Linked DNA regions of Homo sapiens. The protein of the gene in region 2 interacts with the protein of the main gene of each other region in a pairwise test. Each region holds a gene or a part of one and is shown on either strand. Other genes may lie near its edges.

Region 1 (3,650 bases), about 61 Mb from region 2:
CCTTGCAGCCTGCTGGGTGATGGTGGGGGAAGGGCTATCTTGGGTGACTCCCCGCTCCTCCAGGTACTGGATCTCCGCCTTCCCAGCGGAGTTTGACTTGAACCCGGAGTTGGCTGAGCAGATCAAGGAGCTGAAGGCTCTGCTAGACCAAGAAGGGAACCGACGGCACAGCAGCCTAATCGACATAGACAGCGTGTGCGTGGGGGGAGCACAGAGGGCTGGGGGGGCACTCAGTATCCTATACCATCTGTGCTTAATAAATGTCTGTTGAACTGAATGAGTGAGGGTCATGTTGCTCTCTCGCTTAAAAACCTTCCATGGCTCCCTATTGCCTTCAACATGCCTCCTCTGGGCAGCTTGGCGTTCCTGCCTCATCTTCCACTGCCACCACCCATCCCACACACCTCCTCCTGTAGCTGCGCTGGGTCGGCTCCCCGTCGGCTGAGCTCTCGAGTCCTTTCTCATCATGGTGCTCTGCTCATATCATCCCCCTTGCTGCCTCCTCCGTGTTACCAAGACTCAGTTCAGGCATGAAGTCTCCGTGGGCTCTGAGGGTTCGGGGCTCTTCCGGGGTAGAATTTGTCGTTCCCACCTCTGTTTTCCATGGCACTTTGTACAGACTCCTGTACAAAGACCTCTGTACATGTGTCACGCTGTTTTGTGATCATGTGTTTCTGTGTCTGTCTCCCTCAGTAGACTGTGAGCTCCTCGAGGGCAGGAACCGTGTCTTACTCATCTCTGTATTCCCAGCGCCTAGCACAGTGCCTGGCACAGAGTACGTTGTTCATAAATGTGTGTTGAGTGCATGACGGGGTCGGGGGAGATGAGGAGGAGTTGCTGGGACTGGGAACATTCGTGCCTAGGACAGTGCCTCGCATTATGTAGGTTCTCAGTAAGCGTGAATGGTGTGTCTGTGTGAGTGGGGGGCCACGAGTCATGCGCATGTCCAGCAAAGGGCTCACTACCCCTGCCCCCCCAGCCCTACCTACAAGTGGAAGCGGCAGGTGACTCAGCGGAACCCTGTGGGACAGAAAAAGCGCAAGATGTCCCTGTTGTTTGACCACCTGGAGCCCATGGAGCTGGCGGAGCATCTCACCTACTTGGAGTATCGCTCCTTCTGCAAGATCCTGGTGCGGCCCGAGGGCTGGGGGGTCAGGGGTCCAATGTGGGCTGGAAGAGAGTTCTAGGAGGGGCAGGGTCCCTGGCGTAGGCTGGGTCACAGGGTGCATCAGGGGTTTCAGTGTAACCACTGAAGGTCAGCTGGAGGGTGAGGAGTGGCTATCAGTGAGGGGAGAGGCCAGCAAGGTGCTGAGGCCACTCCTCATGCCCCCAGTTTCAGGACTATCACAGTTTCGTGACTCATGGCTGCACTGTGGACAACCCCGTCCTGGAGCGGTTCATCTCCCTCTTCAACAGCGTCTCACAGTGGGTGCAGCTCATGATCCTCAGCAAACCCACAGCCCCGCAGCGGGCCCTGGTCATCACACACTTTGTCCACGTGGCGGAGGTGCCTGCCCCTCCCTCCCGGTGTCTCCCAACCACCCCACATGCCAGTCAGGCCAACCCTTCCCTTCCCCTAACCCACTGCCTTCTCTCTAGATAAGCTGGGCCAAATTCTGGGCCCACTCAGTGACTCCCTGCCTCTCCGTCCCCATTTGCCTTCCAGAAGCTGCTACAGCTGCAGAACTTCAACACGCTGATGGCAGTGGTCGGGGGCCTGAGCCACAGCTCCATCTCCCGCCTCAAGGAGACCCACAGCCACGTTAGCCCTGAGACCATCAAGGTGCCTGGGACTGGGGAGGGGCCGGTGCTTCCCAGGTCTGTCTTCACTGGGTCCTCCCAGCAGCACTGGGGGCTGGGCACAGCTGTCCTCATTTGATAGATATGGAAATGGAGGCTCAGAGGGGTTAAGTGCTTTTCTCAGTTTGCACAATGGCAACAGCAGAGTGGGGGCTCACAGGTCGTCAGGGACCCCAAAGCTAGTACTTTTTTTTTTTTTTTTAAGACAGGGTCTCTCTCTCTGTTGTCCAGACTGGAGTTCAGTGGTGCAGTCACAAGCTCACTGCAGCCTTGAACTCCTGAGCTCAATCGATCCTCCCACCTCAGCCTCCTGAGTAGCTGGGACTACAGGTGTACGCCACCATGCCTAATTTTTGTATTGTTATTAATTTTTTTTTTTTTTTTTAGAGATGGGGTTTTGCCATGTTGCCCAGACTGGTCTTGAACTCCTGGGCTCAAGTGATCCGCCTGCCTTGGCCTCCCAAAGTGCTGAGATTATGGCTTGAGCCATTGTGCCTTGCCACTTGTAGTTTCTTCTTTTCTTTCTCCTTCATTTTTTATTATTTTTGAAGTATTTTGAAGTATTGAGTAACATACATATAGAAAAGTATATAAAAACATATGAGACTGGGCGTAGTAGCTCACACCTGTAATCCCAGCACTTTGGGAGGCTGAGGTGGGCAGATCACGTGACATCAGGAGTTTGAGACCAGCCTGGCCAACAAGGTGGAAACCCATCTCTACTAAAATACAAAAATTAGCCAGGCATGGTGGCACGCACCTGGAATCCAAGCTACTTGGGAGGCTGAGGCAGGAGGAGAATTACTTGAACTCAGGAGGCGGAGGTTGCAGTGAGCCAAGATTGTGCCACTTCACTCCAGCCTGGGCGACAGAGTGAGACTCCATCTAAAAAAAAAGAAAAGTATATAAAAACATATGAATAGTTTAAAGAAAAATTGTAAAGAAAACACTGTGTAACTACTGCCCGGGTTGGGAAATAGAACCTTGCCAGGCCCCCAAGCGCCCAGCACTTTAGAGCATAACTCCCTCCCCACGACTTTTGCAATGATGATCTTGCTTTTCTTTATAGCTTCACCATGTAGGTATGCGGTCCAAAACAATGTGGGGCTTTTTGTTGTCTGTTTTGAACTTTCTATGAATGGAATGTTGTTTGTGTTATTTTATGTCTTGCTTTTTTCATTCCACATGGTTCTGAGAGTCTTTTCATTCTGTCATGTGGAGCAATTGTTTTTTCATTTTCATTGCCATATAATATTTTATTGTACGTCTACCCCAATTCATTTATTTATTTATTTTTTTGAGATGGAGTCTGTCTCTGTCATCCAGGCTGGAGTGCGGTGGCGAGATCTCATCACTGCAACTTCCGTCTCCTGGGTTTACGTGATTCTCGTGCCTCAGCCTCCTGAGTAGCTGGGATTATGGGCTCGTACCACCACGTCTGGCTAATTTTTTGTAGAGACAGGCTTTCACCATGTTGCCGAGGCTGGTCTTGAACTCCTGAGCTCAGGCAATCCACCCGCTTTAGCCTCCCAAAGTGCTGGGATTACAGGTGTGAGCCACTGCCCCCAGCCTACCCCAATTTATGTATTGATTCTATTGTTGAATGTTGGGGTTTTTCCTTTTCTTTTCTTTCTTTCTTTTTCTTTCTTTTTTTTTTTTTTTTTGAGATGGAGTCTTGCTCTGTCGCCAGGCTGGAGTGCAGTGACGCTAATTTGGCTCACTGCATCACTGCACCCTCTGCCTCCCGGGTTCAAGCGATTCTCCTGCCTCAGCCTCCTGAGTAGCTGGGACTACAGGCATGCACCACCACACCCGGCTAATTTTTGTATTTTTTTAGTAGAGATGAGGTT
Region 2 (3,650 bases):
CAGGTGCCTGCCACCATGCCCAGCTAATTTTTTTGTATTTTTAGTAGAGATGGGGTTTGACCATGTTGGTCAGGCTGGTCTCGAACCCCTGACCTCGTGATCCACCCGCCTCGGCCTCCCAAAGTGCTGGGATTATAGGCGTGAGCCACTGTGCCCGGCCTGGTTCAATCCACTTTTAATATTTACATTATTACGACTGTATAAGTAGTATTCATAGCTGAGCCTAATGCGTAACGATTATGTTTCCTTTCTTGCCCATTTTTTTTGCTTATGTCATTAAAGACTGTCTTTTTTGTTTGTTTGTTTGCTTTCAATGTATTCTCACATGCTCTGACAGAAGAATAAATCTCCTAGCTATACTGAAACACACCGATAACTTGCTGGTTTGTGTCATGGATTCTTCCTTCTGGATGCTAGTCCACTCTGGACACTTGTTCTCCAGTCCTGTTGCGTTCCTGATATTTGCTATTTCCCATTCCCATCATCCTGATAATTTCCTTTACATCTCTCCTGTATCGATTCTCTGTTTGCTGGATCTCATGTCCTCTTTTTTGGTGCACGCCTTTGTTTTCCTGAAGCATGTCCTTGCATAGCCTCCTAAGTAAGGACCCATAGGAGAAAATTATTTGGACATATTTGAAAAGGTCTTTATCATACACTTACATTCATTTGATGGTTTGACTGAGTATAGAATTTTTAGTATCTCTCATTCATACTCTGCTAACATCTAAGTATTCCTGCCAAAATAGCCACTCTGTTCTGATTCCCAATCCTTTGTATTGTATGACCTCTTTCCCTGTTTTTTGTTTTGTTTTGTTTCATTTTTGTTGTTGTTGTTGTTCATTAGAAGCTTATAAGGATCATTATTTTATTCTCAGTAACCTGAAATTTCACAGTGATGTATCTTGTCATATGAATCTAGACACCGGGCAGCTCTTTAAAGCTGGCAACTAGTACCTTCACTTTGGAGAAGTTGACTTATATTACTTTTTTGATACTTTCCATTACAATGTTTTTTCTATTCCACATTTTTTTAAAACTCTTGTTATTCAGATGTTGGACTTCTTGTATTAAGTCTCTAATTTTTTATGTGTTGCTTTATTTTTTTCCCCCCCATTTCGTTTTCTTAAATTTAGCTTTCTCGGGGGTTCTCTGTTTTATCTTGTGGATTTAAAAATTTCTGTTGCGTTATTTTTGATTTATGAAGTCTTTTTGTTTGTTCATTTTTTCATAGCACTCTGTTTATGTTTCACAGATGCTTTTTTTTTTTTTTTTTTTTAGACAGAGTCTCACTGTCTCCCAGGCTGGAGTGCAGTGACACTATCTCGGCTCATTGCAAGCTCTGCCTCCCGGGTTCACACCATTCTCCTGCCTCAGCCTCCCGAGTAGCTGGGACTACAGGCGCCCGCCACCATGCCCGGCTAATTTTTTGTATTTTTAGTAGAGACGGGATTTCACTGTGTTAGCCAGGATGGCCTTAATCTCCTGACCTCATGATCCACCTGCCTCAGCCTCCTAAAGTGCAGGGATTACAGACGTGAGCCACCGCGCCTGGCCTTTTTTTTTTTTTTTTTTTTTTTGAGATGGAGTCTCGCTCTGTTGCCCAGGCTGGAGTGCAATGGTGCAATCTCAGCTCACTGCAACCTCTGCCTCCCGGGTTCAAGCAATTCTCCTGCCTCAGCCTCCTGAGTAGCTGGGATTACAAACGTGCTCTACCACACCTGGCTAATTTTTATTTTATTTATTTATTTATTTTTTAAATAAAGACAGGTTTTCACCATGTTGACCAGGCTGATCTCAAACTCCTGACCTCAAGTGATCCACCTGCCTTGGCCTCCCAAAGTGCTGGGATGACAGGCGTGAGCCACCCCACCTGGCCAATTTTAAAAAAATCTAGGCCAGGCTCGGTGGCTCACGCCTGTCATCCCAGCACTTTGGGAGGCTGAGGTGGGCAGATCGTGAGGTCAGGAGATCGAGACCATCCTGGGTACCTGGGTAACATAGTGAAACCCTGTCTCTACTAAAAAAAAAAAAAAAAAAAAAAAAAAATTAGCGGGGCGTGGTGGCGCGTGCCTGTAATCCCAGCTACTCGGGAGGCTGAGGCAGGAGAATCACTTGAACCTGGGAGGCGGAGGTTGCAGTGAGCTGAGATTGTGTCACTGCACTCCAGCCTGGCAACAAAGCTAGACTCCGTCTCCAAAAAAAAAAAAAAAAAGAAAAGAAAAAATATATGTGAGGATATCATTGTTTTCTTTTAATTTTTTTTTCTCCTTCCCATACTATCTCTTATTTCCTTCAGATTTCTCTCTACCTGCTAGTTTGTTTGGTATAACTGTTATGTTGGGGGCTTTCCTCAGATGTGAGGTGACCCTTGTTTGTCTGCCCATTTTTAACAGAAAACACCAAAAAGCCAATGGAAGAGGCCGGGTGCGGTGGCTCACGCCTGTAATCCCAGCACTTTGGGAGGCCAAGGCAGGCGGATCACTTGAGGTCAGGAGTTTGAGACCAGCCTGGCCAACCTGGTGAAACCCCGTCTCTACTAAAAATACAAAAATTGGCTGGGTGTGGTGGCACGTGCCTGTAATCCCAGCTACTCGGGAGGCTGAAGCAAGAGAATCACTTGAACCCAGGAGGCAGAGGTTGCAGTGAGCCAAGATTACGAGATTCCATCTCAAAAAAAAAAGCCAGTTGGAGAATCTGTGTGTACATAAGGGGCTTGGTCCCAGACTCTATGTAGAGTTAAGGAATTCCCACCTGTCAGAATCTGCAGGTTTTTCATCTCATACTGGCCATTTTCCTGAAAGAGGAATCGTCCTCATTTCCTAACTGGATGGGGGATAGGGGTGCAGGTACAGAGTTGATTCCTAGAGTCTGAAAAGCTTCCTCTGGGGAAAGAGAGTTGGGGGAAATCTTGTATTTTATATACAGACTTTTACTTAATCCCCACCCTCAGCTGTGTGCAGTGTTCTCAGATATAGTCCTCTGGTCAACCTCTGCAGAAGGGAAACCTCTAGCCTGCTGAAAGTTGTAACTGTTAAAGGCTTGTAACTGATTCTCCTATTTTAGCCCCACCAGCCCCTCTACCTTTAGATGTACATGAACATTCCCAAAATTCTACCAAGGGAATCGGCCTTTGCATTACAATTGGTAAAATGTTGTTGCCCTTTGACCTCTGTTGTCTGCTGTCATCTTTACCTAGCCTACTTTTTAGGTATATATACCCGCTAAAAAAAAAAAGTAACTATTATTTGGTGGTTTACAAAGAACCAGTAATAAAACACAATTGTTAAATGTTTTATTTTTAAGTGGAAGTCTTTTTTTTTTTTTTTTTCGAGACAAGGTCTTGTTCTGTCACCCAGGCTGGAGTGCAGTGGCACAAACACAGCTCACTGCAACCTCAGCCTCCTGGGCTCACGTGATCCTCCCGTGAACTTAGCCTCCCAGGTAGCTGGGACTACAGACGTGCCTAATTTTCTTTTTCGTTCTTTCTTTGTTTGGCAGAGATGGGGTCTCACTAAGTTGCCTAGGCTTGTCTCAAACTCCTGGGCTCAAGCTCAGCCTCCTAAAGTGCTGAGATTACAGGCATGAACCACTGCACTTAGCCAAATTGGAAGTCTTAATTAGGAAGAATTATAGTTCAAATCTGTATG
Region 3 (3,650 bases), on a different chromosome or scaffold from region 2:
CCGGGTTCACGCCATTCTCCTGCCTCAGCCTCCGGAGTAGCTGGAACTACAGGCGCCCGCCACCACACCCGGCTAATTTTTTTGTATTTTTAGTAGATACGGGCTTTCACTGTGTCAGCCAGGATGGTCTCGATCTCCTGACCTCACGATCTGCCTGCCTCGGCCTCCCAAAGTGCTGGGATTACAGGCGTGAGCCACTGCGCCCAGCCTAAATGTATGCATAATACTTTCTAGGGTGCAGTGAACGTGGACTGCTTATGTTATATAGCTTTATATCGTCACTATTTTTTCTGAGTATTCTCATAGACAAAATTACGTTCTATAGGAATTTATAAAGTATAAATTTATAAAGTGAATGATACTACATTGAGTGGATGGACTACGTTTTGTTGATTCGTCTGTTGGCAGACGCGGGTTGTTTCTACTTTTTGGCTATTGTGAATAATGTTCATTGGCATATGACTTATTTGAGTCCCTGCTTTCAGTTTTTTGGGGTATATTCTTAGGATTGGAATTGCTGGGTCATATGGTAATCCTAATTTGTTTTTAGTTTTAATTTTTTTAATTAAAAAAAGTTTGTATTTTTACATTTGTATAGATGGGGTCTTACTGTGTTGCTCAGGCAGGTCTCGAACTCCGGTCCTCAAGCTGTCCTCCTGCCTTAGCCTCCCAAAATGTTGGGATTACAGACCTGAGTCATTGTACCGGCTCTCATTTTTGTTGTTGTTGTTTTTGAGACGGGGCCTTGCTCTGTCTCCCAGCCTGTATTGTAGTGGCGCAATCTTGGCTCACTTCAACCTTTACCTTTCCAGTTCAAGCGATTCTCCTCCCTCAGCCTCCCAAGTAGCTGGGATTGTGTGTGCACCACCATGCCTGGCTAATTTTTGTAGTTTTAGTGGAGAGGGGGTTTCACCACGTTGGCCAGGCTGGTCTCGAACTCCTGACCTCAGTGTTCCACGCACCTTGGCCTCCCAAAGTGCTGGGATTACAGGCGTGAGCCACCATGCCTGGCCTTGTTTTTATTATTTATTACTACTATTTATTTTATTGTTATTTTATTATTTATTTATTTTTTTGAGATGAAGTTTCACTATGTGGCCCAGGCTGGTCCTAAATTCCTGGGCACAAGTGATCCTCCCACCTCCACCTCCCAAAGTGCTAGGATAACGGGCATGAGCCACCATGCCCAACCCCCTTTTGTTTTTACAGTTATTTTTTGCCTGTTGCAATGTGCTTATTTTCCCAGCTGAACCTTAAATATTTTATGACATAACTAATATGTAAATAGACTGCCTTTATAAACAATTCATTGATACAGACAAAACTGAATATCCTCATCTCTCCTGTTACTCAGGAGCAGTCCAGTTAACTAGTGTGATGTGTATTTTTTTAGACATTTTTATGAGTGTATCTACACGGAGACTAACGTGGTTGGTTTTGTGTGTGTTTTCTGTGGTAAGTGGCATCCCATGTGTGTTATTCTGCAGCTCCCTTTTGTGCTTAATTGTGACTTCGCAAACTTTCTGTCTCTGTATGTGTGATCAGCTGGTGAGAATCATCTCACCAAATGCCAACAAGGCCAAGTTTGTGAGTTCTATGAAGCAAAGTTGTTAATTAAAAAAAAGGGGCCGGGCGCGGTGGCTCACGCCTGTAATCCCAGCACTTTGGGAGGCCAAGGTGGGCGGATCACCTGAGGTCAGGAGATCAAGACCATCCTGGCTAACACGGTGAAACCCCGTCTCTACTACAAATACAAAAAATTAGCCGGATGTGGTGGCGGGCGCCTGTAGTCCCAGCTGCTCAGGAGGCTGAGGCAGGAGAATGCATGAACCCTGAAGGTGGAGATTGCAGTAAGCTGAGATCTCACCACCGCACTCCAGCCTGGCTGACAGAGCGAGACTCTGTCTCAAAAAAAAAAAGGGGGAAAGAGCAAATACATGCTTGTGAGACAGGTAAGGGAGATGAATACTGCTGCTGCCGCAGCCAGAGACCATGCAGTTAGCAGACGTGTGGGTGGAGAAATCACTGTCGTGCAAAGGACAGGAGCTCCTGGTGCCTTTGAATGGTCTGTTGTGCTTACTGCATTTGAGTTTTCAATCCCATTTCCTTTGGTTTCCTGATATACTCACACATGGCGGTTGTGGACTGTTTTCCAGGCATCTGCAGCCCTGGCTAGAAAGAAGGGGAAAAGTTTGCATAAAGACATGGCTATCTTTTGGCACAGGAAGAAAATAAGTGAGTTTTCAATTATTCTTTTCACTTTTTAAAAAAATTATTTTTATTTATTTTATAGAGATGAGATCTCGCTATGTTGCCCAGTCTGATCTTGGGATTACAGGCATGAGCCATTGTGCATGGCCCTCTTTTCAGTTTCTCATGCTCTTGGTCCAAACCCTTTGAGCGTGAGCCCTTTCCCCAGCCAGTGGAGGAGGCTGGCTCTCAGTGGATTTGCATCTCACAGTTATTTCCTTGGGCTCTTCTCTAACCTCCTGTGACAATGAAAATAATATTACTTTCTTAGAAACAGAGTGAAAAAATCCAGTTCCAGGTGATCTGTGATTGCATAAACTCTTTTCTGCCTCCTATGTCCACAGGCCCCAATAAGAAACCCTTTTCCCTGAAGGAGAAGAAACCAGGTGACGGTGAAGTCAGCCCGAGCACAGAGGATGCACCCTTTCAGCACTCTCCTCTTGGCAAGGCCGCAGGGAGGACTGGTGCTAGCAGCCTCCTGAATAAAAGGTGGGATCGGTCCCTCCTAATGACCTTATTCCGGAAGGACCAGGAAATAGCGCCCTATAGCGACACCTGAGTCAGGGTGCAAGACTGTGGGGAGTGGTGAGGAGACAAAAGCCAGTTGCTAGGGATGGTTGGGGGTGGAGGGGCAGGGGCTCTGCCCCTCCTGCCAGCATGGGCCGTTAGGAGGTGGGTCTGTGTGGGGCTGGTGGTCCCAGCCAGAAGAGAGAATTTTCTGACACTGGTAACTGCCAGCTGCAGAGATGGTGGAGAGCAGTGATTCTGTCCTGTCTTGTTCTCATATACCCTAGGGCCAAGGTTGCTGAGAAAGCCTTCCTTTGGGGCTGGCCTTTTTTTCTTGTTTCCATCTTGGCATTTTCTATGGGAGAATCTCATCACACAGTTGTTATAGCTGGTACAGACCTTTCAGCTGCAGCTACAGGAGATCCAGGGGAGGCTGCTCACTTAGGACAGCAGAACTTCTGTCCTTGCACAGAGTGCCTGCTCTGTGGGACACACGCAGGCTGGCGCCCTGTGGCGGGTCGCTGCCTGCCTCACAGGATTGTAGTAGGAAATCTCCTTGCTCATCTAACTCGTCCTGAATCCCACTGCAGTTAAGTGCAGTTCCACTTGACATATAAATGTATAAGCAATAACTTTTTACCTCAAGACATTTAACTGGCTGTAATAAACCATGCATTCCTTTTTTTTTTGAGACACAGTCTGGCTGTTGCCCAGGTTGGAGTTCAGTGGCACGATCTTGGCTCACTGCAACCTCTGCCTCCTGGGTTCAAGAAATTCTCCTGCCTTAGCCTCCCTAGTAGCTGAGATTACAGGTGCGCTCCACCACGCCCAGCTAATATTTTTGTATTTTTAGTAGAGATGGGGTTTCACCATGTTGGCCAGGCTGGTCTCGA

What was found.
Region 1: the proteins of FAM118B (region 2) and RASGRP2 interact in a two-hybrid assay, tested with the Homo sapiens proteins (one large-scale study listed by IntAct).
Region 3: the proteins of FAM118B (region 2) and MCM3AP interact in a two-hybrid assay, tested with the Homo sapiens proteins (one large-scale study listed by BioGRID and IntAct).

The regions. Positions count from the first base shown.
Region 1 is NC_000011.10:64,737,493-64,741,142, reverse strand, and holds part of RASGRP2 (RAS guanyl-releasing protein 2), read left to right. Parts: intron 1-63; coding exon 64-195; intron 196-693; exon of another isoform or gene 694-775; intron 776-979; coding exon 980-1,130; intron 1,131-1,333; coding exon 1,334-1,507; intron 1,508-1,666; coding exon 1,667-1,783; intron 1,784-3,650. UniProt on the Homo sapiens protein: Functions as a calcium- and DAG-regulated nucleotide exchange factor specifically activating Rap through the exchange of bound GDP for GTP. May also activate other GTPases such as RRAS, RRAS2, NRAS, KRAS but not HRAS.
Region 2 is NC_000011.10:126,235,659-126,239,308, forward strand, and holds part of FAM118B (protein FAM118B), read left to right. Parts: intron 1-271; exon of another isoform or gene 272-413; coding exon of another isoform or gene 414-597; intron 598-3,650. Other genes in the region: SRPRA (signal recognition particle receptor subunit alpha), read right to left, coding at 414-597. UniProt on the Homo sapiens protein: May play a role in Cajal bodies formation.
Region 3 is NC_000021.9:46,279,082-46,282,731, reverse strand, and holds part of MCM3AP (germinal-center associated nuclear protein), read left to right. Parts: intron 1-2,156; coding exon 2,157-2,235; intron 2,236-2,594; coding exon 2,595-2,739; intron 2,740-3,650.